Linked DNA regions of Homo sapiens: regions 1, 3, 4, 5, 6 and 7 are each reported to be linked to region 2. Evidence: microRNA targets listed by miRTarBase, many of them from high-throughput screens and not tested one by one. Region 2 holds a microRNA gene; each other region holds the end of a gene's coding sequence.

Region 1 (4,395 bases), not on the chromosome of region 2:
AATTCTGAGGTATCCAAAGGAACTGGAGATTACAGCACATTCTTACGTTTACACAGAAGAATATTTATATTGTATTCCCCCCCTACAGACTTAATGCAAAGAGGACTGTCAATTTTAAAAGACAAAACACCTGTACTACTTAGATGGGCCTTGGAAAGATGGGTAATGGTTATCTTTGAATCAGATCAATAGCTCTTCTAAATTACAAAACTAAACCAGATGAATACATACACTTCTAATGTAATGAACATCATTTTGTTAAACAGATGGTCAAAGCAAATACACTTTCCTACTAAAATCCCACAGGGATAACAAGTTTAATGAACATTCAAAATAGACTATTCATATAAACTATAACCTGCTATGTCTCCCTTTGTACACATAGGCAGTAAATTGCAGATTACTTTGATCAAACTCTGCAGTTTCAGATTGTATGACATCTTATGCTGCAGTCACTAGAACATTGCCACTTAATTATATGGAAACTCAGGAGGCAAAGACTCAAAATGGCATTTGCTGTGAAATGTCATTTGAGTTTTAACTCCCTGAATTATTGGGTTAGTCATTTTCTATGTTAAATGAGGAGGTGTCAATAGACTACCACCTGTAGCAACAAAGCTCTAAATAAAACTATTCTGAGTCGACCTCATTCAAAACAACTACATTCCACAATTTCTTAAATTATAAAATGTAAACTGCTGACATCTGAATTCCATTGGAAAAATGCTGTTTTCATCAATGACGACTGTTTAAAAGACTGTTTAACTATTCCAGCAATCATGTTAAGGAACTGTTGGATATACATTTTCATCACTGCATCAACGACAAAAACGGAGAAATTTGTCTGAGTCAATTTATTCAGCACAAAGTTTTCACTCTCATAGTGTGTTGATTTCCATGCTGCAAAATGCAGTTAACCAATCATTCATAGCAATAAACTCTTGCATTTAGTTTTTCATTCCCATATTAACTTTTATCCAGTATTTGTGAATAGCACCTAACATGGAAGGCTAGTATCTGAGTTAATGACAATTTTATGGAATTTATCTCCATCAGTTGACACTGTAAACAGAAGGGTGAAATGCCATCATCATAAAAAGCCTGAAGCTCACCAGCAGATATATCTTTTCCTTCAATTCCCTGGGGGTAAAGCAGCTTGAATTACATCTAGCAAATGTATTTAAGTACAACTGCACAATAAGCACAACTGAAAATATGCCTCTTTCACAGTAACTGACACTTCCGGGGTTTTCATTTTTTTCTGCATACTAATCATTAACAGTATTATACCAAAAAGCCATTTTAGTTCTACCCACACGTATGTTAATGTTTCTGAAAAGGGCTATTTTTTCTAATCTTTTAGGAAGTTTGTCGTAATCTTCCAAAATCTGGAGAAAACTGCAAAAAAAAAAATTAGAGGTTAATTGTGAAGGAAGACTCGTGTGGAAAGGCAAACTTCCATATTAAGGTGCAGAACAGGATGTATGGCACAAATTCTCACTTTCTGCTATATTTTCTAGGAGCCAAAACAAAAATGACAGCATACATCTTTTATATCACCCCCATTCTGTCCAAGTGCCTTCTAAGATATTCCCCTCTACTTCTTTCTGCAGCAACTCTGCTAATCCAGACCTTTCCCAATTTCATCCCCCATCCTGTGACTCATTAGATCTTTGACTGAACTCTTAGGGCCCCTGATATGTGCTGATGAGGCTCCTGCCAGTTTCTCCCACTGAGGGCAGAAGCAGGAGAGCAAGGAGGTGGTGTTCTTGTTATTTAACAAAGGTCATGGTATCTCAGAGTTGCCTAATAAGTAATCTAACTGGAGACTATCTTTCTACACATTTCAAAGCACCTCAGAGAAACCTGGAAGCTGGTGTCCTGTCTCCTAAGAGTGGAGACATCAGAAACAAACAGCCAAAGTCTGACCTTGACATACAGAGCAGCACATTGTCTCAACTGTGGATCTGCAAACAAGAAACAAGACAAGAATGACAAAGAGAGAGAAACTCTCTCTGGGTTAGGGATGTTTTTGTTAGTTTCAGTTTTTCTCTCACCTGAACAGTATCTTCCTGCCTCTACTCAGTAATAAGAGCTTAGCTGAGTAGCCAGCATTTTTTGTATATTTAGTCCTCAATCTGCTGTTCTGTAGGACCACCTTCTGCTACCTTCCATATAATTAGTCCTCAAGAGTCCTTTATCTTTTCTCCCAGCAAAAATTCCCAGCAACAATTCAATTTTAGCAAATATTGTACTTTTATACTGTCTATTTAAATAGAATGAGAGCATTCTTCCATCCTAATCAAAACCCATGTAAATATTGTTTTGCTGATAGGCATACAATCGACTTTAATGAGAAATTGTATATGAATCTATATTTACAACATTCTGTGGTTCTTTAACATTAATAACCATACCATTTAATAATATTTTGCTCCAGTATTTATCTATAATAGCAATATCTAAAGATCTATATATTATCAAGTATTTTGGTTAAAATCTAACAATTTTCTATATGCATTTTCTTTGGAGATGGAGAGGAAATGTTATGGGTGTTTTTTAAAAAACCAAAACCCAGTTAAGACCTTCAGTATTGTACTCTGCCAAGTGTGAAATCTCTCATCTGATTAGAGGGACAAGAATTCAAACCTGAAGTCCTGGAGAGTCTTCTGCTGCTTTGTAACTGTATATGTTAGTCAGGCTTTGGGTACAGCACAAAGGGAATGAAGGGGTTCCAGGATGCAAGCACACAGAATCGCCTCCATGAGGACCACCCTCACCTATCTCAGCTCCCCTTTCCCTGGCTGCCTGCAGTGCTACTACGTGGTGCAAATGCCAACAAATGCCGCAGTCTTGCAGACTGCATGGCCTTTGGAGTCAGAGAAACCCAAGCTTAATGTCAGTTTCACCACAATGTGATTTGTGTGCTGGGCAAAGAACTGACTTTACCCTCTGAGGACTTCAGTTTCCTCGTTTATGAAACAAAGATTTTTTTTCTCTGTCACAGATTCTGAAGATTAAATTACATAATATATCTAAAGTAGCTAGCATGCTCACTGAGAAACAATTACAATTATTCATAGTAAGACAGGTAATGTGCTTCAGTAGCAATTTGGAGGCAAATCTTAGAAAAGAGCAAGTACTTCTCCCCCTCCCCAAGTCAAGTCCAGCCTCCAGAAAAGGGCTGCAGTTAGACTTCCAAAACTCCTTGCAAACAATTGGGTCCTAAATGCCAGTATGTGCCCCTGGCATCAGAACCATGACAGAGAACTCCGGATACTAATGGCCATCAAAATATAAACTAGTCTACCCATTTGGGAACTTTTACAGGGCAGAAAAAAACTTCTGAACGCCTGTGGGAATTCACATGTAGAACAGCAATCTTATACAAGTATTACATTCAAATAGTTATAGCAAAAAAAAGTATAAAACATATAAAAGCATTTACTTTCCTAGATATGTCTGCAGAACTGGCAAAATATAAATAAATTCTCCTCCTTCTAAAAGTCAGAAACTACGTAAACAAAATTAAAATAACTTTAGCAAGAGCCTTCATTTTAATGAAAATTGAATTTAAACAAAAGTTGTGTATCTTCTTCTGGCTCACAGTTGTACAGTAACTGAGTTCAAATCCTGGGTTCATTCACTAGTTTAGTGACACGGATTTTGCATCCCTACTTATAAAATGGAAATGATACTGCCTAAATCACGGTTGTGCTGAGAATTAAGTATTACATGGGAATGTGTGTAAAGTGCTTAGCACATTGCCTGGGACATATACAGTAACTGCTTCCCACCATACAGATACTGAAAAGCCCAATCACTAATAACAATTTGTTATATTTACTTTACGTGGTGTTTTTTATGTGAGTTCGCTTATGAGTAATGAGATGCAAATTCGACTTGAAAGTTTTCCCACACACGGTACATTTAAAAGGTTCCGCTAGCATGTGGCTCTTCTGGTGGCATGCAAGTTCTGAGTCCAAAGCAAAACTTTCCTCGCATGTTTTGCACTTATGGGGCCTTTCCTCTGTATGAATGTTCTGATGGGAAATAAGCTCAGAGAAACAAGGAAAGGTCATGTCACAGTCAGGACACTGTAAGGGCTTGAATTTTGAGAATGAGAAGAAATTGTCCCCATCATCGCTGCAGCGTTCAGAGTCCTCGTCGTGGCTCTTCTCGGAAAGGGCAGGATATAAGGACTGCCTGAAGCTCTTCATGCACTTAGTGTGCTGGTACTGGGGGCCTGATACGAATGTTTCCTCAGGCAAAGCAAGATTTGGTTTCTCATTAAAATGTTTATCACAGTTAGTAGATTCGTAGGTGTTTTCAGCACTGTGGCTTTTCTGATGCTGTGCCAATCCTGGGAGCCACATAAAACCTCTACCACATATG
Region 2 (4,395 bases):
ATTAATACAATGTTCTTATTTTTTCTATTTATTTGTATCTTTTTAGTTGAATCTCCTTGTCCCTGACACTAAATTTTTTTTATTTTTATTTATTTATTTTTTTTGAAACAGTCTTGCTCTGTCGCCCAGGCTGCAGTACAGTGGCGCAATCTCGGCTTACTGTAGCCTCTGTCTCCCGGGTTCCAGTGATTCTCCTTCCCCAACTCCCGGGTAACTGGGATTTTCAGGCACACACCACCACCCCAGCTAATTTTTTTGTACGTTTAGTAGAGACAGGGTTTCACCATATTGGGCAGGCTGGCCTTGAACTCCTGAACTAAGGTGATCCGCCCACCTCGGCCTCCCAAAGTGCTGGGATTAGGGATAAGGCTAACCTGCTTATTCTTTGTAGCAAGGAACTGGAGATGGTCATTTTAGGGGTTTATGTTCTGGATTCCAGAAAACATGCAAACAGGGCCAATAAATGCATCCTCATTTTTGTGTCCATTTTAACCTGGGCAAGGAAAATTCCAACAAAAAACCCAGAGTTCTGGAGCAAGAAGATCTCATGCTGTGACCCTACAAAGGGAAGCACTTTCTCTTGTCCAAAGGAAAAGAAGGCGCTTCCCTTTGGAGTGTTACGGTTTGAGAAAAGCAGCGTTGAAGTTGATGCTTATCTCGGTAATACATTTGTAGAGCATGCTTATCATGAGGCTTGGACGATGGCGGGGTTCTGTTTTGGTTTTGCTTTTTTATTCTAAGACAGGATCTCTGTTGCCCAGGCTGGAGTGCGGTGGCACATCCAACCTAGGTCTTTTGGATTCAAATGGTTTTTTTAGCGGACAGAGTCTCTCTATCACCCAGGCTGAAGTGCAGTGGTGTGATCTCGGCTCACTGCAACCTCCACCTCCCAGGTTCAAGCGAGTCTCCTGCCTCAGCTTCCCAAGTAGGTGAGATTACAGGTGCCCATCACCACACCTGGATAATATTTTCATTTTTTAAAATTCATTTATTTATGTTTTTGAGATGGAGTCTCACTGTTACCCAGGCTGGAGGGCCGAGGCGTGATCTCTGCTCAGTGCAACCTCTGCCTCCCGGATTCAAGCAATTCTTCTACCTCAGCCTCCTGAGTAGCTAGAATTACGGGAGCCCACCACCACACCTGGCTACTTTTTGTTTTTTGTTTTTTGTTTTTTTTTTAGTAGAGATGGGATTTCACCATGTTTGCCAGGCTGGTCTCAAACCCCTGACCTCAAGTTAGCCACCGGCCTCTGCCTCCCAAAGTGCTGGGATTACAGGCATGAGCCACCACGCCTGGCCTAATTTTTATATTTTCAGCAGAGGCGGGGTTTCACCATGTTGGCCAGGCTGGTTGCGAACTCCTGACCTCAGGTGATCTGCCCACCTCAGCCTCCCAAAGTGCTAAGATTACAGGCGTGAGCCACCACACATGGCCATTAACACCTTTTAGTCCATGGAAATTATTCTGGCACTGATTTATAAAGCCTCATGTGGGGTCAGGTAGAGTCAAAGGGGGACCTCAGTGTCCCTTGCAGATGGGATGTGCTCAGCAAGAGCACGGAGGTGGAGTGCATGGGGTTTGAGTTTTCACTGGGGAAATGAAACCAACATCTTGGGTGCATGACCAGGTCATATATGCAGTCATATATGCAATATGCATGGTGGTGGGTGCCTCTAATCCCAGCTACTCAGGAGGCTGACGCAGAAGAATCGCTTGAACCCAGGAGGCAGAAGTTGCCATGAGCCGAGATCCCACCACCGCATCCAGCCTGGGCGGCAGAGTGAGACTCCGTGTCAAAAAAAAGAAGATCTCAGGCAGTGACCCTCTAGATGGAAGCACTGTCTGTTGTATAAAAGAAAAGATCGTGCATCCCTTTAGAGTGTTACTGTTTGAGACAAGCAACGTTGAAGATGCTGCTGATCTTGGTAATACATTTGCAGAGCGTGCTTATCATCAGACTTGCATGATGTCGGGGTTCTGTTTGTGATTTGAAATTTTTCCAAGACAGGCTTTCTATTGCCCAGGCGTGGGTGGATAGCACCTTCCACCAAGATTTCTTGGGCTTAAGTGGTCCTCTTTTTATTTTTTGATTTTTTGAGACACACTCTTGTTTCGTTGGGAGTGCAGTAGCAGGATCTCTGCTCACCGGAAACTCCACCTCTCGGGTTCCAGTGATTCTCCCACCTCAGCCTGCCGAATTGTTGGGAATTCAGGCATCAGGCACCCACCATCGTGTCCTGCACTCTTGCTGCCCATCCTGGAGAGCACTGGCATGATCTAGGCTCACTGCAACCTCCGCCTCCTGGGTTCGAGTGATGCTTCTGCCTCAGCCTCCCAGGTAGTTGGGATTACAGGCACCTACTGCCCCACCCAGCTAATTTTTATGTTTTTAGTAGAGACGGGTTTCACCATGTTGGCCAGGCTAGTCTTGAACTCCCGCTTTCAGGTGATCCACTAGCCTGTGGTCTATCCTGGAGGATGTTTGTGTGTGTGACAATGTATATTCTTCAACATCTTAGACTCCATTTTGGATGCTCCCATCGGAACTATGTATCCCTGTGCTGGAACTCAAGTGAACACTCAGCTCAAAGTCCATTGCTGTTCTCTAGAAATCCAGCCCAGTTCTCTTGGTTAAATATAAGGTATGTGTAGTAGGCATTGCTTTTTCTCTTTAGAGGCAAAACTCAGGAGGGTTGCCCCTTGATGAACAAGGCTAACCTGCAGAGCCTTTGAAGAAAGGAACTGGAGATGGTCCTTTTAGGGGTTTATGTTCTGGATTCTAGAAAACAGGCAAACAGGGCCAATAAATGCATCTTTATTGTTGTGGCCATTTTAACCTGGTCAAGGAAGATTTCAACAAAAAACCCAGAGTGCTGGAGCAAGAAGATCCCATGCTGTGACCCTCCAAAGGGAAGCGCTTTCTGTTTGTTTTCTCTTAAACAAAGTGCCTCCCTTTAGAGTGTTACCGTTTGGGAAAAGCCACGTTGAAGATGATGCTGATCTTGGTAATACATTTGCAGACCATGCTTGTAATCAGACTTGGATGATGTTGGGAGTCTGTTTTTTTGTTTGTTTGTTTGGTTGGTTTTTTTGTTTGTTAGGTTTTTGTTTTTTGTTTTGGTGTGTGTGTTTTGTTTTGTGTTTTTTTTTTTTTCTAAGACAAGGTCTCTGTTGCCCAGGAGAGACTAGAGAAGCACTTTTTAAGATAGGCCTGTTGGGCTCAGATGGTCCTTTTATGGGATACAGTCTTGCTCTGTGACCCAGACTGGAGTGCAGTGGCGCGATCTTGGCTCAATGCAACCTCCACCTCCCGGGTTCGAGTGATTCTCCTGCCTCAGCTTCCTGGGTAGCTGGGATTACAGATGCCTGACATCACACTCGGCTAATATTTGTATTTTTCTTTTTTATTCATTCATTCATTTTTGAGATGGAGTGTTGCTGTCACCCAGCCTGGAGGGCAGTGGCATGATCCCGGCTGACTCCAACCTCTGCCTCTCAGGTTCAAGCCATTCTCCTGCCTCAGTCTCCTGAGTAGGTGGAATTACAGGCACCCACCACTACAACCAGCTACTTTTTGATTTTGATTTTTTTTTTTTTTTTTTTTTTTTAGTAAAGGTGGGGTTTCACCATGTTGGCCAGGCTAGTCTCAAACCCCTGACCTCAAGTGAGCCGCTGGCCTCGGCCTCCCAAAGTGCTGAGAATACAGGCGTGAGCCACCGGGCACAGCCATCAGCACCTTTTACTTTATGGAAATTTTTCTGGCACTGGTATAGAACCTCACGTGGGGTCAGGTGGAGTTGAGGGGACCTCAGTGTCCCTGCAGATGGGATGAGCAAGAGCACGGAGGTGGAGTGCATGGGGCTTCAGTGTTTATTGGGGAAATGAAGCTGAAATCTGGGTGCATGACCAGGAGATAAATGCATGAGACGGCGGTCTCACTATGCTGCCCTGGCTGAAGTGGGCTTAGATCCTCCTGCCTCTGCCCCTCCCCAGTCCTTGGTAGATGGGACCACATGTGAATATTAACCCCCCATGCACAGACAAGAAGAAAGTAAGGACTGTTCTTTGGTTCATACCTGACCCCAGTTAAACTTGTATTTTAGATAAACAATGTATTTGAGATGTACTTGAACAACAAACGATTTGCTGTTCAGGTGTGGGCATCTTTGTTTTGTTTTTTTTTTTCCTAATTTTAAATATGGGACTAGTGTGCATATGGTGGCTCTTGTCTGTAATTCCTGCACTTTGTGAGGCTGAGACAGGAGGATCACCTGAGATCAGTTGTTCGAGACCAGCCTGGCCAACATGAAGCCAGGAGGCTGAGCTTTCAGTGAGCTGAAATCTTCTGCTGCACTCCACCCTGGGCAACAGAGTGAGACTCAGTCTCAAGAAAG
Region 3 (4,361 bases), not on the chromosome of region 2:
TCATTCCTAGTAAGGAGTTAGTCTTGCATATGATAGGCACTCAATATTTGTTCAACTGGACCTAAAATTTACATCATTCCATGAACACTTAAATAAAGTAGAGCTCATTAATTTGTATAAAAAAGGTTTGTAAAATACACTTTGTGTGCGGAAAGTGCTGTCTTTATAGCTGTCTTTATAATCTGAGAACACTAAAACGAACCCACTCACCCACCCACCTTCTTTTGTAAGAATAAATTGAATATTTTTATTTTATCCATCAAAGAGCATGCATGTCCAAGTCAGAATAATTCACCTCTTCAAGTATACTTGGCTCTAAGCCAAGTATACTTAAGTATGTTGAGCTGGATTTTCACAATCCCTGTTCTATTTTAGTAACACTGGGTCATATCTATGACCCACATTTTATAAAGAATTCTGATTAAGATTTTAAATTTATGAACAAAATTTAAATGGGTATATTATTAATTCTAATTTTGGCCATCTAAGCTCTTATTTAGATCCAGTTTAAAAATAAATGAATAATGTTCATGACAACTTTTTGAGATCTTTGTTAATATTTTAAAACAATTTTATTATAATTGATGTCCTAAAAAGGCACTGTTTTCACATTTCATCATGCAGTAAATTGATCACATTTTTGAAAATTATCATTTCCTCTGTTAATCAATTGTCCTCCAAAGTAAAGCATATTTAAATGAAATATTTCTGCTAACCTGAACTTTCAACATTTAACTGATTTCTATTTCCAGAAATTCACTCTTTGTAACATACCACACACAAGCCCCAAGCAAATACAGGTATGTACACAAACACACAGACACACACGCGCATACACACACACACACACGATCACATATTTCATGCAAGGTTCTCCAATTACCAATTCAAGACAATGACACATGACTATTCAAGGAGGTAACATTGGCAAGCCATATTATGGCACCTTCATTATTTGTGCTCCAAATATCAACACACATTAAAATTAAAAATGAAAAGGCACAAATATAGTATTTCTAAGTGTTGGTCTAAACAACAGTTACCCAATGATTATTCTTATAGTATGCAACATTTGAAACCATTCACTACCTTCTCAGAAAAAGCCTTGCTTAGGTGACAAAGGGAAACAGGAACAGGCTAATAGCTCAAAAGGCGGGACAGAGTATCTATACCTATTTTGAAAGTAATGTATGCAGTTTAAAAATGAGGAGAAGGAGGCTATTAGAGCACTCATGTCAGAATACATTAAGTGTTTTTATCATTGCCTCAAGAACCCACAATACCAAAAATATACATAATAAATAAAAAAATAAATCAACTACCATATGATTCTGTTAGTATAATGGTAGGCATTATATTATCTGAAAAGTGGACATTTCTACAAACATGGATATTCTTACAGCACAGTGTTTGACATTTTTGGTACAAAATGTGCTACCAAACTAAAAAAAAAATCTTTATAATAAAATCCTTAAGATTTGCAATAAACTCTCGAGTAAGTAAGAAGAAGCTGAAATGTTCATTATACGGTATTTTTACTGAAGTCACTGTGGTTAGAAATATAGATTCAAGCGGTGAATTAAATCACAATGTGCCGGTGTGGTGCGCATTGGATATAAATGGATACATCAGTACTTTTCTGATATATGACAACATAATTCTATAGCCTGAGGGAATTTTTGTTTTCTTATAAGACCCTCGCAAAATCTTAAAACTGGAAATGTATACATATGTATGTATGTATGTGTATTTTTAAAATTGTATATTGCAAACTTGAGGCTCAATCTTACGATGGATTTAAGGAAGTGAATTTCTACTTCCCATAATACTCTTACACAGGATGAAGTATGAAGTTCCATCACCAGGTAAGAATCTTTCTTCTATCCCAAGAGATTCTTCCAATTTCAAATTTAAGTTACCACGACAAAGAATGAAACTACATAGAAAGTAATGAAGACAGGTGAAAATACGATCTTTTTAAACTCTAGGTTGTTGTGGATAACAAATGCTTAGTTGAGTTTTTTCAATGTAAATATGAATCCAAATGAATCTGGACATATTCGAATTGCTTCAGTTAACACCTAACAAAGAGATAGCAAAAATAAGGTCTATTTGAAAACACCTCAAGCTTCATTTTTTCTTTTGTCCTGAATTCAAACATTAAATAAACAAATTATACAAATTTTAATCTGAAGAATAGTTATGTTTGCAAACATAGGTATATGCGTTTTTTTCCAGTGACACACTTTTTCCCTTGTGGTCAAATATAAATCTTGCCCTTAAGAAGCACACTGGTCACCACCACAGTAAGTCAGATGTGGTACCCCAACACTGACTGCTTCTGCTTCTCCAGGACAATGCACCAGAACAAACCTCCCTTAAGAACACAACTATCAAACACTGAACGTGTATATGCATTTAAAGCTAAAATTCATTTATAATAAAGAACTGGCCCATGAAAAGCAGTTTATAAATAGTTTATCCTGTTCACATTATGCAGAATTTCAGTATCATCCACAATGTTAGTACAGTAACTGAAACACAATGAAGAAAAACGGGGAGTGAGGGGAGGTTCCTAGTGTGACCTGACATAGTCTAAGGGTTCTCTCCTTTTGTATGCATCTCCCAAAGGCAAGTATCAGTTAATTGTTTGAAGGAGAGTAGACTATCCAGGATTCATTTATTGTTCAGGTGTCTTTTCCAAAGTGTGAGAAAATAGGAGTCAATTCAATAATGAATATCTGTAATCCAAACCAATTTAACTACAATCAAGGATGTCTTTCTCATCTATTATCACAAACATCCCAGTTGCCTCCATCTAAAAATTTCTTTGAAAAGTTAAGACACAATTAATTATACCTTATTAATTCCCTCAAAAGCAAAAAAATATATGTACCATTCAGCATACAAAAGTTACACAGTAAAAGTGCATATGTATCTTTCTTAATTGGCCCACTCATTAAATTTGCATTTGGTCATCCTTACTTTTAACATGTACAGAATTCTTCGTATAAATGTAGGTCAGTATAAATTAAAAAAAAATTACTTCCACACAATACATGCTTTCTTCATGAAATCTTAACCTCAATCAGTTCTCAATAATTGTAAACTTAGAATAAACCCACAGTTTGTTGGACAGTTAACATACAAGACAAACATCATAAATGTCACTAAAAATCTAGGCCAACTCATTGCATATTTGCCCCCTGAAATGAAAAATAAATTAGAATTGAAGCAGTGTATTGCCATAACTTACCTTGAAGGTAAGAGGGTTCTCCCATATTTATAGAACTTAGATTGGAGATATTACTGGTAATCTCCAATACAAGTGCTTTTAAAGAGAACTTAAACTTTGAGATAGCATAGGACAAACCCTATAAAATTCATTTTTCTTTTTGCAAAATAATGGAAGATCCTTTTGAAACTTAGTATCTTCAGTTATCAATATTACTGCATTATGGAGCTAGTGCAATCCTGCATAGCCTTGGTCAAAATGACAAGGCACAATAAAAAAAAATTAAAGTATTATATGAACAAGACAAGTCATTGAAGATAATTTAAGGCCTTGAAGTGAATTAATCAGTCTAATTTAAAGCTGAAGAATAAACCATAAATTATCCACCTGAAATGCAAGCAATATGCTTTTTCAGCTTCTGTTCTGTGGACAAAATAACAGAAACAACTCTTGCTTATGGTTTGTGTATTAGAATCCTTCTGGACCTGGAGGAGTGAAAGTCAATTCCATTTTTCAACTGTTCATGGAAGATTTCAGGACTGTTTTAGCCGTTTGCGTGGAATGCCAAACTGTGGACACTGTGCAGATGCTAGTGCTCGAAAGGCTTCTGCTACTAAATGAGGGTGAGACTGAATCATGGACTTCCACCCTGATGTTTCCATTATGTCGGTTGCTTGGCTGAAAAATAGAATTAAAAGATATTTACTAAAGAATACTTTTCAAAATGCACTATTGCACTGTTAATTTCTTAAAAACTTGCAAATTTCAAAATATTTGAACACTTTTTACCTATGTATTCAAATCATTTGCTTTTATTAAAATACCATCTTTATCTTACTGGTATCTTCTGTGGCAACTGAAACTATTAAATTTTTCTGGAAGTTCGGCTCCCTTAAAGTATGTGACATGGGTCTTCATAGTTCAACTCTCATTGTTACAATTTCTGTACCAGCTCTTTCAAGAGTCCCTTTCTCTTCTTTTACATGCCTCTTATAAGGCAGATTTTCTCTTGAGTTACAAATATTGGACTCTACTCTCCCCCCTTAACATGCATTACTAATTCTATCTCATCCACTCTTCACAATTTTAACTATGAAATTCAATGATGTTAACTACCGATTTGCTA
Region 4 (4,395 bases), not on the chromosome of region 2:
CGTGTGAAGCTTGACATGCCTGTGAGACATCTGAGGGGAGATGCCAGCTAACTAATTGGATATACTGGGCAGGAACTCGGAAGAGAGCTATGAGGTGGAGACGTAACATTTGGAATCAGGGGTATTACAGACATTTACAGCCACGGAAATTGATAAGATGCCACCAAAGGAATTAATGGGCAAGCAGAGTAGAACTGCTTGAAAAAACAAATGCCACTATGCCATGCAGTGTCACTAACCTAAGTAACCTTAGGTCAGTCATTGTCCCCTCTGAGACTTTCCCTATCCAAACAATGAGATTGGATTAGGTCACCACTAAGGTTCTCTCCCTAACATTTAGTGATGCCACTGTTGCAATGTGTGGCTTTTACATTATGAGGCTACACCAAGAGCCAGTTCTTCAACTTGCCCTGCAATCAGAAAGGTCCTAATGGGTCTCCTATAACAGAAGCCTCACAGCTGGGGATGCCATTTCCTCTCTAACCTCTGGAAAGACTGACCACCTGCCTGCTATTCTCATTGCCTGCTACTATGTAAAAACTTCTGGTGTCAGTCTCCATCTGCTGGGGGGAAAATCACTCTCAGAAAGAAACACCTTCTCCTGCCAAGGCTTTGGGTGGGGCTTTGAAAGTTGTTTATGACAACACTGAGTCAGCACATTCATCAGGGTCAAGCTCACAGTTGGAGGGAATTGGAAGAGGGCCTTAGTAGAGAAGAAACCTCCAGCTGAGGCTTCTTCAGTCTCAAAGGGAATGGAATCAGAATCCACAAATTCATAATGGAGATTGGCAGGGAAGCATTGGCACCATGCTCAAATCAGCGGTTTCCTCCCAACGTGTTAGGCAGTTCAGATTAGAACAACAAAAAAGTACTAAATTTATGGACTTGATCACCCCAAGAAGTCATAAAAGTTCAAAACTGGTTTTCAAAAGCTGCAAAATAGGATTATGTGAAAACAAGCTCTTTGGGGAAGCGCGTCTAAACTACTGAGACTACTGAGCAGGGGTAGCTGGGTTCTCCCCAGATGTGTATCTTAGGGTTTGTTTCTGGGGCCGGAGGGATCACAGATCTGACCTAGTGTGACATTTACATGCATTAAGAATCAACATCCTTTCCTCTAATTGAGTTGTTTTGTTGCCTGAATCCTTAGGGTTAAAATAAGGGTACTTGGCTGGCCTCTGAAAGTACAGGACACCTTTATTAGCCTCTGAAAACGCATGGTTTCTTCTCATCTCTGAGGGTGAATATACTAAGAATTCTTATAAATGGTATTTCCCTGTAAGACAGGTGATGACAGTGCAGGCACAGCTGATGGGGACTGCAGTCAAGTCGAATGGAACCCAGTGACACATAAGCCCTCCCTTCTGAGTGCTTCCTCACCAAAATCACACTTTGCTTTTTCACACAACATATATTTATTCAGAAAAAAATTTGCAATAAATTATAATAAAAAAGATGACACGAAATATAGAATCCCACTAGCAGCTTTGCTTAGTGATCAAGACGTTTTTGGGAAATATAACAAACAATTACAGAATAAGAAAACAGTGAAAGGGAGACTAATGCAATGTCACCACATGGATTTGAACCATTTCTTCCCTAAGACAGCAGGTGCAGAGTCTTTCCCTACCAGCTGAATCCGAAATCCTTACTTCAGAGCAGCTACAAATTAGTACCTTAGAGGACTTGGCAATTACAGGTTGGGGTGCTGGAATAGCCATGGTAGGGAAGCAGATTTCTTCTGTCTGGGTCTACATCTTGTCTCCTCTACCTAGAGATTGTCTAAAACTCTCAACTCTGTATATGTTCCAGGATGAGCTGAAAAAAGGTCGAGGCAGTACACCAACTTAGTGTTTTGATCTGATGTAGAAAGAGATAGGATACTGCATACGTGCAGCACAGAGCCTCCACTAACCACACCCTTGATCACCCAAAGATCCCAGGTCAGTGATATGCTAGAAAACAAGCCCAGGAAAGGTATTTCCCTGTGGTATGACCCTACCCCAGTGTCTATCATCTGCCTCTTTTTGTGATCACTTTCTGGCCTTGCGGAGATGACAAACCTGTTCTGCTCTCAGTCTTCCATTAACTAAGTTCAACACCTAGCCCCTGACCTATCATACCTCCAGATCTGTGGCACCAGTAACTTGACTCCTATTGCTTTAACTCTCAATCAGGAAAGGGTTTAGCCATATTGCAGAATACGTACCTTCCCCCCCACCCCCACCAAGAAACAGGAGAAATCACTGGTGGTGCCTTGGATATGCTAGAAATGTCACAGAGTCAATGCCCAGGATTGTACATACAGCCTGTACGTTATGCTCCTTGCAATTAATGTAAACAGGCAAGGGTGGTTGTAACAAAAGAAAACCAGGAGGAACCCAACTGCATCAGGCAGTTTTGCAGTCAGTGGTTGGTGGCTTGTTTGTCAACCAATATAGATTAATTTATTTTAAAAAAAGGCTGTACCACAGAGCTTGAATAAATGAAAAGCTCAGAGGGTCATCTTGTATGGGAGAGGTAAGGTGCTTGGTTGGTCCTGTTGGCCAGTCTCTTTACACAACACTGGATATGGTGACTGGGAGCCAAGGGGAGTCTCTAAACCCTTTATGTGAAGGAGCTGGTTGTAGAGCCCAGAGTCAGTCCTGCTGAGGAAGGAGGTGACATCTGCCCTTGGTATTTCAGAAGACCAGAGAATGGATTCTAAGGGTCATCCACAATACCTTTGCTGTGGGAAGGAGCAATAGCTCTAGATGGGCCTGCCTGAGGTACAAGACTTCCTCTTTTACTGTGGGGCCAGTGTTGCTCTGGAGGTGGATGTCTAGGCAGGAGATGGGTCTCAGAGACACCCAGGATTAGTCCTTGTGTAAAATTTGAATAATAACAGGAAAAGGATAGTGGGAAGCAGGACCTGTCAAACATGAATGCTCTCACTCTTCAGATACTCAAAGTGCTTCCATTCTGATTGTGATTCTCTCTCATCGATGAGATGCCATCTCTAATAGTCCCTACAGTTATGCTACTAAATGTGATCTAAGAGAATATGGTTCCACCCAGTGTGGAGCCATGAAAAGGCCAATGTTACAGAGACATAAAGATGCCATTGTAGTAGAAATGCACAAATGCATGTAATAACTGCACGCAGACAGTGAATTCACTGTTGAGGACACCCAAGGAGTCACTAGCCTCACTCAGACTTCGTTCAAAGTGACAGAACGAGGGGAGTGGAGTGCAAAGGAGTGATCCAGGAAGGGGTGGGTCAAAAGTGCAAAACAAAGGACTCTAGACAAGTCTCAGCTACAGCAAGTAGTGCTTGTAGGCCTAGAATGGGAAGATCTCAGAATCTAGGCCTAGGGTACTAAGGACAATCATGACAATTGGGTAGGAGGGCAACAAACACATCCCTAGGTGAAGGAGTGTAAATACAGATCTTTTTGCCTTATAAAGAGAAAACACAAAAACACCAAAATATGGTAACTTTGGCTTGGCAATATAAGTCTAAAAGTATTTTTCTGTGTAGGATATGGTAAAGGAGGGATTAGGAAACGCTCTTCCTTTTTACTATAAACAGAACTTGAAATTCTGCAATAGACCCTTCCTGTGGCATGACTTTTTAAATCATTCTGAAATACTTGGAGCCCGAGATCGTCTGCTTCTAGAATATCAGAGAACAGTAAAAGCCTTAGTCTTCTTCGCTCCCAAGCAGAAAGCCCAGAAGGAACTGAATAGCACGCTGGCGGTCACTTGGAGTCTGTCTTGCCATAAGGTTGGGTGGAGGCCTCAGGAGAAGACTAGTGAAGAGAGTAGCTACAAGACGAGAGAAAGACAAGCGGAAACTTCTGTCAGACATAACCTAAGCAAAACCTCAGGGCTGGAGGGCCTGGGGACAAGGACTATTGACTGCCATGTGCCTGCATATGCAGTAAGGTATATACTGGATACAATGCACTAAGAGTATTCTCAACAAACGCCCCGTGTTGCATGAAGCACTCTTACCGATCATGTTGGCATTGACGCTATTGTATTCAGAGAATTTTAAGAGTTCTCGAAGGAATGCCATCAAGTAACGGAAAACATTTCTATGGCATCTCGGAAGCTGGGAGATCACCTGTTTTTAAAAATAGGGGCAGGCAGTGAGAAAAACAGGTGGAAGATGAAAGTAAGAGGAACTTACAGCTGCTGTAATAGTAGTCTATAATCCAACCCTTGCAGGACCCATTTCATCTGTCTAACTTCTATTATCTCCTCATGGCCAACACAATACCTTCCAAATTATAACTTCAAAGTAAGAGTGGCCGTGCTGTTTGGTCCCTGTCCACTCAATGACCAGGCCACGTGGTCATCACACATTCATACGCACACCCTGCCTCACAATAGGTCAGTGTTCATCTGTTC
Region 5 (4,395 bases), not on the chromosome of region 2:
GGAGGGGAGGCTTTCTTGGGGCAGACATCTTTCTGGCGGCCGGAAGCAAGGTTATCTCGAGGCCGTCATCTTCCTGGCCAGAGGGGGGTTATCTTGGGGCTAACATGTCTCTGGTCAGGGAGGAGTTTGGAACGTTTCTGGTTGGAGATGTTATCTATGGTTTATGGTTATGGTGACCTTAGCCATTAGGCTGATGATGCCTTTTGGATTTAGGTGGTTTTTGATTAAGGTAAACTTTAGAATGAGGGGCTTGTCCAAGATGGCAATGCTCCTGCTTCATCACCTAGAACATAAGGCCTTGAAAGTAACCGTACTTCAGGGTGTCAGCTCTTAAAGAAATGATGTCTTGATGTGAATCTTTAGTTGCTGTTGGTGTTGTTATTGAATACAATCTTGTTTATTTTCAGCCTGGAAAGATGTAACCAGTGGAAATGCTAAAATTTACCAGCTTCCAGGGGGTCACTTTTATCTTCTGGATCCTGCGAACGAGAAATTAATCAAGAACTACATAATCAAGTGTCTAGAAGTATCATCGATATCCAATTTTTAGATATTTTCCCTTTCACTTTTAAAATAATCAAAGTAATATCATACTCTTCTCAGTTATTCAGATATAGCTCAGTTTTATTCAGATTGGAAATTACACATTTTCTACTGTCAGGGAGATTCGTTACATAAATATATTTACGTATCTGGGGACAAAGGTCAAGCCAGTAAAGAATACTTCTGGCAGCACTTTGGGAGGCCAAGGCGGGCGGATCACGAGGTCAGGAGATCGAGACCGTCCTGGCTAACACCGTGAAACCCCATCTCTACTAAAAATACACAAAATTAGCCGGGCGTGGTGGTGGGCACCTGTAGTCCCAGCTACTCGGGAGGCTGAGGCAGGAGAATGGTGTGAACCTGGGAGGTGGAGCTTGCAGTGAACCGAGATCGCTCCACTGCACTCCAGCCTGGGTGACAGATCCAGACTCTGTCTCAAAAAAAAAAAAAAAAAAAATACTTCTGGCAGAGTCTTTTATCTTCCTATTAAAATCTCACTTGATTCTCCTTTATGGGAAGTTTGTCGACAAAATTCATGATTAGTAAATTATCCATTTTTTCCTTCAGTTAGTTTAATGGTGAAGATGATTAACAGGGGAAATGCTTGAAGTAAATGATTGTTTCAATGGCATACCGTGTCTCAAAGCTTGATCTCATTTTTTCAAATGTAGAATAGCCCCACATAGTAAGAAAATGTAACCTACTGCTTTGTTAAAAGAGATCCCAAAATAATTATTGTCACCTGTGCAGGCAAGTCGTCAGAATGCCTATACCCCACCCCTCTAAGGAGTTTATTCTACACCACTTACTGGGGGGCTCTGCCACCCTGGCATGTCTGGCTGGGACCTGGATCGTCCCCCCAGTGGACAACCAATCTAGAGTGTTGCCTGTGACAAAGGGAGTGGCCAAGCACAAATCTCACACCTAAGAGGCTGCCTCAGCCTCACTCAGCAATAACTTGAACTTGACTTAGGGAGAAAGCACAACAGCTGGAAGTAAACAGGAACCAAGAGAAAAAGAAAAGCAGAAATAGGAGCCAGGCTCAGTGGCTCAACACCAGTAATTCCAGCACTTTGGGAGGCTGAGTAGCAGGATCATTTCAGGTCAGGAGTTTGGGAGACCCCTGTCTCTACAAAAGATTTTAAAAATCAACCAGGCATGGTGGCGTGCACCTGTAGTCCCAGCTACTTGGAAGGCTGAGGCTGAAAGATCGCTTGAGCCCAGGAGGTCAAGGTTGCAGTGAGCTAGGATCATGTCATTGCATTCCAGCCTGAGTGACAGAGTGAGACCCTATCTCAAAAATAAAAAGTACATAAGGTCTTAGTAAATAAGATTAAGGAAAATGCATACAGGTGGTATTTTCCTAAATTTATCACTCTTTTTAAACAAAGTACAAAAAATATAAAATTAACTATTTGGGGGAGGCACTTTGAGTTTAGGCTACAAATAGTCTTAAGCAAATTATGTTGTAGTATGTGTTGTACTTTATCCTTTAATTTGATACTATTTCCAGGGTTCCCTTACTGAAAGATTGGTATAAAAGTAATTGGGAGGCCGGGCATGGTGGCTCACGCCTGTAATCCCAGCATTTTGGGAGGTTGAGACGGGCGGATCAGCTGAGGTCAGGAGTTCAAGACCAGCCTGGCCAACATGGCGAAACCCCACCTCTACTAAAAATACAAAAAAATTAGCCAGGCGTGGTGGCGGACGCCTGTAATCCCAGCTACTAGGGAAGCTGAGGCAAGAGAATCACTTGAACCCGGGAGGTGGAGGTTGCAGTGAGCCAAGACCATGCCACTGCACTCCAGTCTTGGCGACAGAATGAGACTCTGTCTCAAAAATAATAATAATAATTAGGATTCGTGATTATTAATTTGAAAAATGTTTAGTCAGTATAGTCTGCAAACTGAAGTTTCATGATGGAACAAATGCCAGGCTTTGGGGGTAAGCTTTTTCCCCTGCATCTCTACCTGGTGGAGGTAAAGTCCACATGGGAACAACTTTCAGGAGTTTTCAAGCCCTCAACTGTAAGACACCAAGTCTATCATTGATGATGTCTTCTCTTTGAAGGAATTAGGCCTTGGTATCATCGTGGAAGACGTCTATCATTAGGCGAAATTTAGAAAGATGAGAATTATCTTGATTGCCAAAATTTTCCCGATGAGAAATCAACCTCGATTTTTAAAAGTAAACTTTTTGAGGTAACTGCAGATTCCCTTTTATTTGTAAGAAATAATACAGAGAGATTTGTGTAGCCTTTTACCCAATTTCCTTTAATGGTAACTGTTATGCAAAACTATAGTATAATATCACAATCAGCATATTGGTGTTGCTACAATCAAGACAGAACATTCCATCACTGCAGGATCATCCCTCCTGCTGCCCTTTTAAAGCCACACCCACCTCCCTCCTCCCTGGCAACCACTATTCCATCCTTTGCGTCTATAAATGTTCCCTTTCAAGAATCCTGGCTGGACGCGGTGGCTCATGCCTATAGTCTCAGCACTTTGGGGGGCCAAGGTGGGTAGATCACCTCAGATCAGGAGTTCCAGACCAGCCTGGGCAACATGGTGAAACCCTGTCTCTATGAAAAATACAAAAATTAGCTGGGCATGGTTGCACGCACCTGTAGTCCCAGCTACTCTGGAGGCTGAGATGGGAGGATTGCTTGACCCTGGGAGGCAGAGGTTGCAGTGAGCCGAGAGCGTGCCACTGCGCTCCAGCCTGGGTAACAGAGTGACAGCCTGTCTCAACAAAAAAAAAAAAAAAAAAAAAGAAAAGAAAAAGAATGTTATATAAATGGAATTATACATGTCACATTTGGGGACTGGCTTTTTCTGCTCAGCATAATTCCCTGGAAATTCATCTAGCAGACCTAGATAGTTTTGTTGTTGTAGTAACATGAAGTGGATCTATTCCTCTGGTCATACCATTCCAAATCTAAATTTTTATGCAGGGAATAGAGGTACACTGTTTTGGGGGATATTTATCTTAAGGGATCTCAAACAATTTTTTGAATTGTTAACATGAGACTGTCTTCTTTCAAAGAGCCTGTGTACCATCCAGAAAGACTGAGTAGGGGGCCAATATTATATTCCAGACTCTATTTTTACTCAGATAGAACTGAACATATGGGGTACAGTAGTGGTACAGTTTATCACTAGATACATTTTAGTTTGCCTTTTTGTCTTAAATGTCTTAAATGTAAAAATTTAAAGAAAAATAGATATTCCTATGGGGGCTTTTTAAATTTCTTTAAACTGCTATGGACAGACTTGTAATTTTTTTTTTTTTTTTTGAGACGGAGTCTTGTTTTGTCGCCCAGGCTGGAGTGCAGTGGTGTGATCTTGGCTCACTGCAACCTCCATCTCCTGGGTAAAAGCAATTCTCCTGCCTCAGCCTCCCAAGTAGCTGGAATTACAGGTGTGCACCACCAATGGCTGGCTAATTTTTGTATTTTTAGTAGAGATGGGGTTTTGCAATGTTGGTCAGGCTGGTCTCGAACTTCTGACCTCAGTAATCCACCTACCTCGGCCTCCCAAAGTGCTGAGATTAGAGGCGTGAGCCACCACGCTCAGCCTTGCCATTGATTCTTAATAACCTGTTTTTATTTCACCAGTAACATTAACTTATTGTAACAGAACAGATGAGCCAAAAGAACAAACAGCTGTTCAAATCTGTACACATATTACCAGGGCTAGACTTTCTAAAAAGTCAAAAAACAACAGATGTGGAGAAAAGGGAATGCTTATACACTATTGGTGGGAATGTAAATTAGTACAACCTCTATGAAAAACAGCACGGAAATTTCTCATGGAACTAAAAATAGAACTACCATTCTACCCAGCAATC
Region 6 (4,330 bases), not on the chromosome of region 2:
CAAAATGCTCCAATGAACATTTCCTTTAAAGTGTCACATCGGCACTCAAAAATGTTCTTATCTGAAGCATTCTGAATTTTGGATTGGGGTGCTCAATGGCTGTATGAGTATTTGGGGAATTCCTGGAAATGGACACATTATTACATATAAAACTGTCTTACAGACCTTAGAAATAAGGTTTTACAATGGTTCATAAGCTTTACAAATCTTCCTAAACTACTTTTTAAAAAACAATGCTTAATTATATAGATTTTGATTTTTTTTTTTTTTTTTTTTGAGACGGAGTCTCACTCTGTCACCTAGGCTGGAGTGCAGTGGCACGATCTTGGCTCACTGCAACCTCTGCCTCCCGGGTTCAAGCGATTCTCCTGCCTCAGCCTCCCAAGTAGCTGGGACTACAGGCGCCCGCCACCATGCCCGGCTAATTTATTGTATTTTTAGTAGAGACGGGGTTTCACCATGGTCTTGATCTCCTGATCTCGTGATCCACCCGCCTCGGCCTCCCAAAGTGCTGGGATTACAGGCGTGAGCCACCGCGCCCGGCCCAGTTCTGTTTTTTTGTTTTGTTTTGTTTTGTATTTTGTGTTTTTCTTGAGATGGAGTTTCACTCCTGTTGCCCAGGCTGGAGTGCAATGGCGCGATCTCAGCTCACCGCAACCTCTGCCTCCTGGGTTCAAGCAATTCTCCTGTCTCAGCTTCCCCAGTAGCTGAGATTACAGGTATGCACCACCATGCCTGGCTAATTTTGTATTCTTAGTAGAGATGGGGTTTCTCCACATTGGTCAGGCTGGTCTCAAACTCCCAACCTCAGGTGATCCACCTGCCTCGGCCTCCCAAACTGCTGGGATTACAGGCGTAAGCCACCATGCCCAGCCTGTTTTAAAAATTCTAATGAACTGGCCTGGTGCGGTGGCTGACACCTGTAATCCCGGCACTTTGGGAGGCTGAGGCGGGCGGATCACGAGGTCAGGAGATCGAGACCATCCTGGTTAACACGGTGAAACCCCATCTCTACTAAAAATACAAAAAATTAGCCAGGCATGGTGGTGGGCGCCTGTAGTCCCAGCTACTCGTGAGGCTGAGGCAGAAGAATGGTGCAAACCCGGGAGGCAGAGCTTGCAGTGAGCCGAGATCGTGCCATTGCACTCCAGCTTGGGTGACAGAGTGACTCTGTCTCAAACAACAACAACAAAATTCTAATTAATAATTAGATTGGAAATCATTATTTAAAAAATTAGTTATGACTCAGAAAATATTATTATATAAAAATTCAAGGAGAGGACATTATTAGGGTCATCTTACCATTATTAGCCATAGCAGTACTGTGTCTTGCACACATCTACAAATCATGGTTTTTTTTTTTTTTTTTTTTTTTTTTGAGAGAGTCTTGCTCTGTTACCCAGGCTGGAGTGCAATGGCACAATCTTGGCTCACTGCAACCTCCACCTCCAAGGGTTCAAGCGATTCTCCCTGCCTCAGCCTCCTGAGTAGCTGGGATTATACAGGCGCCTGCCACCACGCCCGGCTAATTTTTGTATTTTTAGTAGAGACGGGGTTTCGCCATGTTGGCCAGGCTGGTCTCAAACTCCTGACTCAAGCTGCTCATCCACTTTGGCCTCCCAAAGTGCTGGGATTACAGGCGTGAGCCACTGTGCCTGGCCTACAAATCCTGTTTTTAAACTGACAATCTGTTCTAACTACTTTGCTCATTAGCACACGAAAATGATACTGGTTGAGTTCGAAACATTGTAATTTGTATTTATAGAAACCCTAAGTAAGATAGTTCCCAAGATTAAATGCTATTTTAAAATACTTTTTGGAACAAAAATACCTCATTTTATCTTATATCATTAGGAGTAAACATGATCCATATAAGTGATTTTTAAAATTCATACCTTAAAGCAATGATAGTTTTTAAAAATTAAACCATTTTTTAATAGAGGTGATCTTAAAATACCTTCATTTATTGCCTTGTAAAATTCTACCTCCTGGTCCTGACCCCCAAGCTTTCTGTGAAAGATTCCAGGGTCAACACTATGAATGTCAAATATTATAATCCATTATAACAAAGTATTAACCTCAGCAATTTCTTAAGTGTAACAAATGTTTATCTTACGGTTGCTGCTTCTGTAGGCATAGATATTTCCTGATTACTTCATATTATTCTAACTTCTAGAAGTCCTGTCCCTCTGGTGCTTCTCACCTGTTTTTAAAAAAATCAGTACATGTAATTTTCTACATTATTCTAGCTCAAAAGTGCTCCACACTTTTTCTGCAGCTTAAAATAAGTTTTTCTTTCTTTCCTTTTGGGATTAGGGGAAAGGAAGACGGCTGGGCTTGATAACACACTCATTTGTAGGTTTGCTTCAGAGGTGCTGGATATTTCCTGATGGGTAAGTTTGCTAAAGAAATACATACCAAGAGGTCGCCATGTTATCATACTGAGGACAGCAGGAAACTCTTCCAGGTGAGACCAGAAAGGATAATACAATAATTTGCTAATAGTTAACAGACATTTGATATTTTATGGACATAAATAAAATGATTTACCTACTTTACAAAGTAATATTAACTACAGGTGTATCTAAAAACCTATGAAATTATTTGCAACAAATATTTCACTGATAAAAATTTCTTAATATTTCCCTTAGCAAAAACTGTACATTTGTTAGAGAGTACCTGATACTTGTTAAAATATCAAGTAATACAGGACATGGTGCTGTAAAACAAAACACACAACTGGGAAGTATTTTATTTTTTCTACTTCATATAACATTGTTCAACACCACAAGATTTTAAAGGTCTCTTTCCCCAACTTTTATGATTTAGAAGTACCACTTAAAAATATTTACTGATGCTGTAAATATTACTGTTTTTGTACATAGTAAAGATTTTAATGAATGCCATATCCATTATACCTCTTGCTCCTTTGGTCAGAAAGATAAACAGAAACTTTAAATCAGATGTTTGGACATTCAAAAATGGTTTTGAAAAGTATACCCAAACAAACCAAATATATATCAGCAACTATTAAAAATCAGTTTTAGTAGTTATTAAGAATTCTTAACAAGGAAGTATCGAAGCATGTGTGAGATTTTAAAAACTATATACAATTTTAAAAACAAATTTAAATTTTTAAATAAAAAAGATTAATGGCCAAATTAAAAAGTTTGTGCATCAGATTTAATATCTTAATGTTTATCAGAAATATATTTTGTGAGTAAGAATTATTTCATAAATATATATGTATAAATATAAATATATATCTGCAGGATCTGTGATGCTGGAGAAAACATTTTGAAGAAAAAAATTGCACTTTTGATTATCAAGATATTGTCAAATTTACCCTTTAAGTGAAATATAATTACCAATCCAGGTGCTTTTGGCACAAGTTTTTAGGTGAATATCGACACAATCTTAAAAACACAATGCTTTTGTATTTTATTCACTGGAATATGGAGAATCAAACAGAATTTAAAATTCTGACCCAAAAATCCCAGATAACTGCAATTGCTTAATTAAATACAAAAAAAAATTGTTTTAAAAAGCGCTTAGACTTCCCTTTCCATCTGGAACATGTAAAATTTTGCAGCAACAGGTTTTCTCCAATTCCTTCAGCAAGAATTCCCAGCCTACACACAAATTTAACACCATCTTTTTCTATTCATGTATAACTTGGATCACACACCAGTATATAACGACAAAAAATAAATGTATAATAAAAAGATTGGATAAATCAGAAGAGGCTTTTTGGTCTTGAATTCTTCACCCACTAACAATGAAGCAGCACTGTAGGCAGCCCAAAACACACCAAACAGCTTTAAAAAAAGGAAAAAAGACAAAAGGCAGCATATTAGCAAGTCAATTAACTTTTTGGATATCATAGAGTAAAAATGGTGTTTACAATATTTTTAAAAAATCAACAACCAATTTTGGTAAATAGTAAAACTTGTTACAAATGTTAAAAACTTATTAAGAATGTCCATCTTTGCTCTACTCCTTGACTTCTGTAAATGTGGTCTTATCAAACCAGTCTAATCATAAGAATCACTTGGGGTGCCTATTAAAAAGACTTGGGGGACTCTCTAGTTCTGTTAAATTATAACTTATTGTTTCTTTTTCTTTGAGCTATAATTTCTAAGGGAAGGATCTAGTTATCAGTATTTTAAATAAGTTCCCTGGTGATTATGATTAGGCAACTTTTGAAAAAACTATTATTATACCAAATTACTGAGAGAAAACTAATTCCTGCAAAGTAGGAAATTTTCCTTTTCCTTCTAAATAAGAAAATCGATTAAGTAAAAATTTTATACAATATTTATTAAGTCTT
Region 7 (4,366 bases), not on the chromosome of region 2:
AGTGGATTCTGCTTTTCCTTCGGAGATGGTGGGTGTGGAGAAATCCCTAGTGCCAGGAGAGTGGGATGAGAGATCCTTCAACAGCCTTAAAGGTCAGCTGGTCATCTCAGCCAGTGGGGGTGAAATTGTAGGTTTGATCTAAGTTTGATAGTTTGATACAGCTCATTCTATTTTTTCCCTGGTTACACACATACTTTAATCCACGGTTCCTGTACTCCTGTCAGCTGGGTGGCCTGGGTCAAATTCAAAATCACTATTGGAGAAAATGAGGTTATTTGCACATCTCAATATGATAGTGTTCAAGAATGTCTTCTCCAAGTGTTAGAAAACTAGACAAACGTCTGGGCGCCAGGGAATCTGACAGCCAAGGTCTTGATGAGCACCTGCACCTGTGTGGCATTTACTGTGGTGGGACTTGGGCCCGTCGCTCCCTGATGCCCAGCTTCTTGGTGACCTTACCTTTTTCCTTCCTCTTCTATTGCAGCTAAAGCAGCAGCACACCCTTCTGTACAAGGTGAATGGAATCCTCACGCTGGCCACCTTCCTTTCCTGCCGGATCCTTCTCTTCCCCTTCATGTACTGGTCCTATGGCCGCCAGCAGGGACTAAGCCTGCTCCAAGTACCCTTCAGCATCCCATTCTACTGCAACGTGGCCAATGCCTTCCTCGTAGCTCCTCAGATCTACTGGTTCTGTCTGCTGTGCAGGAAGGCAGTCCGGCTCTTTGACACTCCCCAAGCCAAAAAGGATGGCTAAATGCTCCTGGGAGTCAGGCGCAGCCTCACACCAGCTGCCTCCTCCACTCAGCATTCCATGGACCAAATTGTGCCCTGGGTAGCCTCAGACTTTGGGTATTGATAAGCCGATGGATTTGAGTTTTTCTAAAGAATATTCATATTACCTCCTTCTTCTAACTTGCCCTATTTGCAAAAGCACTTTTGTAGTAACAACTATTGGGTCCTGTCAGACCTCCACGGACAGCAAAGTGGTTTTAATGCAAGCCCAAGGATCCTTCTTAAGGTCTTATCTCAAGAGCTCTGGGAGGTGGAAGCATGGGGTGGGATCGGTGGACCAGGGTGGTAAGTGTCTGCACATCTGCCTGTCCCTGTATCAGCGGCTACCCACCTTCCAAACCACTCAGGACAGTACCCGTGGCACTGGGCCCGCAGAAGCAAGGGATGACTTGGTTCTTGGAAGTAATGTCGTCTTGTGACATTGGCCTGGGACAATCATTGTGGGTAGGTAGTTATTGATCGTTTACTAGATAACCCATTGGTTCTTTGCCTCATCCTCTCATCCATGGGTCAGAGTTGAATTCTTATGTCTATAGACTTCCAATCAGAAGTCTCACTGGTGGGGCTGGGGGTGGGGGCAGGCAGGAGGCATGGATGGGAACCTGAGTAGGTAGTGTGGCCAAGAGATCAGCACAACCTTTGCAGGCTGACTTGCTAAGTCTGACAGTGACAAACTTGTGAGCTTACTGCAGTCAGTCACAGAGGCTGTTCTTTTTCACACACCCCTTCATGCCCGGCTTTCCCCATATCCACATGCAGAGGGCGAGCTCATAAAACTACAGGGAAGCGTGAAATGATGGCTTTGGTAGCTGTTTACTGGGTAACCCCACTGTGACACTGTCCTTTTCATGTGATGTGGAAACCTACTTCTGTCCTCCAAACCATGAAATGTGTCATCTAGACTGCAGAGTACTTGAGTGCTTTGCCTCCCGATATGCCAGAGCTTGTGGTCCAAAGCCCATTCCTGTGTGTCCGTCCTGCCATTTAGCCACAGAAGGCTGCGGAGTGAGGCGGCAGCTAGCCTGGCCAGTGGCTGTCCCGTGGACCGACACCTGCGCCCCCTTCTGCAAGCAGGATTTTCTGGTGCCAACACTCATTCATCATTCCCGATCAACTAGGATGAATTTAAGACTGTGCTACCATGTGTTCTCAAGTGGTAGTTTAAAAAGTGGATTTTTAAAGTGCCTTTCAATTGTCTGTGAACGTCTAAAGGACTGATTTGTCTCATTTTGACTGTTGAGTCTTTAATGGGTGCCATTTAAAAAACAAAATGCTATTTTTTAATTGTCTTTTTTTTTTAACTATCAGTGTATCTTTAAAAGTCACCCTTACGGTGATTAAATTGCACTAACATTCCCAACTTATTCTCATTTGTGAAATACATCAATATCAGTGTCCTGTAAGAATCATCCTGTGACCTAGCTCGACTGGCTGCCGTGTGCTGTGGCTCAAGGTCTGTGTCCATGTAACTAGCAGAGGGGTGTGTGTGTGAATGCTTTCAGCCTCCAGAAAGGTCTAGCTCACACCTCACTCAAACCTATTTTTGTGGTTCATGGTCTCAGTAATACATTGAAGGTTCCCAGAGTTCAAGCGTAGTGGTCACACGTAACTTGAGACCGTTTCTTCTCTTCATAAGTGAATCTTACTAGGAATTGGGAGAGTGGAAGACCGATTATTGGTCAGGGAGCCAAGCCTACTTTACCTGAGGAGAACCTGAGTAATGCCCCATTGTGAAGGAGGGTGTGGATATGGAGGGAGTGATGGGACATATTTTTTCCCCCTTTCATCTCACACATTAAACATGTCCCCAGCCAATTTTCATAGTTTCCTCATACCTCAGACACCTTAAACTCATTTTTTTTTCTTTTTGTAGAGACAGGTTATCTCTGTTGCCCAGGCTGGTCTCAAACTCCTGGCCTCAAGTGATCCTCCTGCCTCAGCCTCCCAAAGCACTGGGATTATTACAGGTGTGAGCCACCATGCCTAGCCCACTCTCAATTTTTTTTTTTTTTGTTTTAGACAGGGTCTCACTCTGTCACCAAGGCTGGAGTGCAGTGGTCTGATCTCAGCTTACTGCAGCCTCTACCTCCCAGGATCAAGTGAGCCTCCTGCTTTAGAACCCTGAGTAGCTGGGACTACAGCTGTGTGTCACCACACCTAGCTAATTTTTGTGGTTTTTTTTTTGTAGAGACAGGGCTTCCATATGTTGGCTGGTCTCAAGTGATCCTCCCGCCTCGGCCTCCCAAAGTGCTGAGATTACAGGTGTGAGTCACCGCACCTGGCCCAAACTCATTTTTTATGTTCCTGCACACATCATTCCCTTATCCAAACCATTCATTCATCCAAATCTTGACAACCCCTCCTGAGGCAAAAGCTAACGTGACCCATCCATTCAGCACATCTCTGCTGGGTTTGCCAGGTCTCGTCTTCACAGTAGCCCCTTTGGGGGTGACTGAATAGATGGAGTTAAGACTGTATGGGAAGTGGGTGTGCTTATTGTCCCAGCTACTCAGGAGGCTGAGGTGGGAGGATCACTTGAGTCCAGGGGTTCAAGGCTAGTCTGAGCAACAAAGACTGTACACACTCCTCAATTCAGAGGGGACCCATTTTCTTGAGGTCACTAACCTAGCCCCTCGCCACTGAGTTTATCTTGGTCCTCCAATCCTCTCATTTTAGAATTGTGCAGGCCTCTCGGGCACAGCAGTCTCATGGCCAGAGGCAGAGCCAGGGCTGGACTGGATTCTTTTCCAAGCTGCTGTCCTTTCCAAGATACCTCAAGAAAAAAACATTAAAAGACGAAATAACTCTTGAAGGGGGTTATACGTACCATGTAATGCTTTTTCCACTCACATGGTTTCAACTTTGGGCTTATTTGCCAAAATCTAGGATGGAAAAGTCCAGTTATGAACATGTTCCTCCTGGCTGGATTTGATCTTGAAGACACTAAACCCAATTTCAGAGCATATTTAATCCTGGGCTATTGCTGAGGCCGACTTAGAAGAGACAAAGTGAGATGCGAAAGAGGAGAATTTTTATGATAGTTTGTACGTTACAAATACCCAAGAAACTATTTTCTTTACACCATTATTGCCATGACTTTTTGTGGACAGTTTCACATAACTGTAAAGTCCAGGCTGCTCGGGTCTGACCCCTACAGACCTGCCATGTTGAAGCCCAGCTTTTTCGCTCCCGCACAGGTAAGAAGCTGCTGATCTTCTGCAGACCCGCCATGTTGGGGCCCAGCTCCCCACGCCAAGTCAGAAGCTGCTCATCTTCTGCAACAGGGTTTGGCGCCGTTCTTCAGGGCCGATGCCCTCAGCAATGGACTTTAAGAAGCGCTGCTCGTGTGCCCTCTGGAGCAAGGAGCTGACAGAAGGGTTGGTCTTGCTCAAAGTCTCATAGCAGGTGAGGGTTTCCAAGGCTAAAACGTAGAGTGGCTCACAGACCTCCGGGTGGAGCATGGCCATGATGTGCAGAGCATGGCAGAACACCTGGGTGTAAACAAACAGGGCTTCCTGGGTCAGGTCCTGCTCTGGTCCTTGAACCCAAGGGCCAGCTGCCTGTATCGCCCTGA

The links. Region 2 holds the annotated microRNA hsa-miR-519d-3p (CAAAGUGCCUCCCUUUAGAGUG, at 2,942-2,963, shown strand). A microRNA usually pairs through its seed, bases 2 to 8, with sites in the 3' UTR of a target mRNA and lowers its output. Matches are read on the target gene's strand: a 7mer-m8 pairs with bases 2 to 8, a 7mer-A1 pairs with bases 2 to 7 and ends in A, and an 8mer does both.
Region 1: the mRNA of ZNF597 is a reported target of hsa-miR-519d-3p. Seed matches in the 3' UTR shown: 8mer at 3,749-3,756.
Region 3: the mRNA of SPOPL is a reported target of hsa-miR-519d-3p. Seed matches in the 3' UTR shown: 7mer-m8 at 2,924-2,930 and 7mer-m8 at 152-158.
Region 4: miRTarBase lists OCRL as a target of hsa-miR-519d-3p. Seed matches in the 3' UTR shown: 7mer-m8 at 3,263-3,269 and 7mer-m8 at 2,948-2,954.
Region 5: miRTarBase lists OLAH as a target of hsa-miR-519d-3p. Seed matches in the 3' UTR shown: 7mer-m8 at 733-739.
Region 6: the mRNA of YIPF4 is a reported target of hsa-miR-519d-3p. Seed matches in the 3' UTR shown: 7mer-m8 at 2,254-2,260, 7mer-m8 at 1,622-1,628, 7mer-m8 at 506-512 and 7mer-A1 at 27-33.
Region 7: the mRNA of TLCD3A is a reported target of hsa-miR-519d-3p. Seed matches in the 3' UTR shown: 7mer-m8 at 931-937.

The regions. Positions count from the first base shown.
Region 1 is chr16:3,432,576-3,436,970 of GRCh38, forward strand. ZNF597 (zinc finger protein 597) reads right to left here. Exons shown (of 4, transcript NM_152457.3): 4 at 1-4,395. The coding sequence ends at 3,849. Among named protein-coding and RNA genes, the nearest start is that of ZNF597, 8.7 kb to the right of the region's middle.
Region 2 is chr19:53,710,459-53,714,853 of GRCh38, forward strand. It overlaps MIR519D (microRNA 519d), which reads left to right and starts at 2,889; the gene lies at 2,889-2,976. It overlaps MIR524 (microRNA 524), which reads left to right and starts at 544; the gene lies at 544-630. MIR517A (microRNA 517a) reads left to right here and starts at 1,810; the gene lies at 1,810-1,896.
Region 3 is chr2:138,568,488-138,572,848 of GRCh38, reverse strand. SPOPL (speckle type BTB/POZ protein like) reads right to left here. Exons shown (of 11, transcript NM_001001664.3): 11 at 1-3,913. The coding sequence ends at 3,769. Among named protein-coding and RNA genes, the nearest start is that of LINC02631, 31 kb to the left of the region's middle.
Region 4 is chrX:129,589,558-129,593,952 of GRCh38, reverse strand. OCRL (OCRL inositol polyphosphate-5-phosphatase) reads right to left here. Exons shown (of 24, transcript NM_000276.4): 23 at 3,997-4,108; 24 at 1,397-3,807. The coding sequence ends at 3,683. Among named protein-coding and RNA genes, the nearest start is that of OCRL, 51 kb to the right of the region's middle.
Region 5 is chr10:15,072,680-15,077,074 of GRCh38, forward strand. OLAH (oleoyl-ACP hydrolase) reads left to right here. Exons shown (of 8, transcript NM_001039702.3): 8 at 408-1,174. The coding sequence ends at 550. ACBD7 (acyl-CoA binding domain containing 7) reads right to left here. Exons shown (of 4, transcript NM_001039844.3): 4 at 2,796-4,395. The region is part of intron 2 of ACBD7-DCLRE1CP1 (ACBD7-DCLRE1CP1 readthrough); the gene reads right to left. Among named protein-coding and RNA genes, the nearest start is that of ACBD7, 14 kb to the right of the region's middle.
Region 6 is chr2:32,304,977-32,309,306 of GRCh38, reverse strand. YIPF4 (Yip1 domain family member 4) reads right to left here. Exons shown (of 6, transcript NM_032312.4): 6 at 1-3,818. The coding sequence ends at 3,681. Among named protein-coding and RNA genes, the nearest start is that of YIPF4, 29 kb to the right of the region's middle.
Region 7 is chr17:740,817-745,182 of GRCh38, forward strand. TLCD3A (TLC domain containing 3A) reads left to right here. Exons shown (of 5, transcript NM_024792.3): 5 at 485-2,152. The coding sequence ends at 754. It overlaps GEMIN4 (gem nuclear organelle associated protein 4), which reads right to left. Exons shown (of 2, transcript NM_015721.3): 2 at 3,605-4,366. The coding sequence ends at 4,050. Among named protein-coding and RNA genes, the nearest start is that of GEMIN4, 9.3 kb to the right of the region's middle.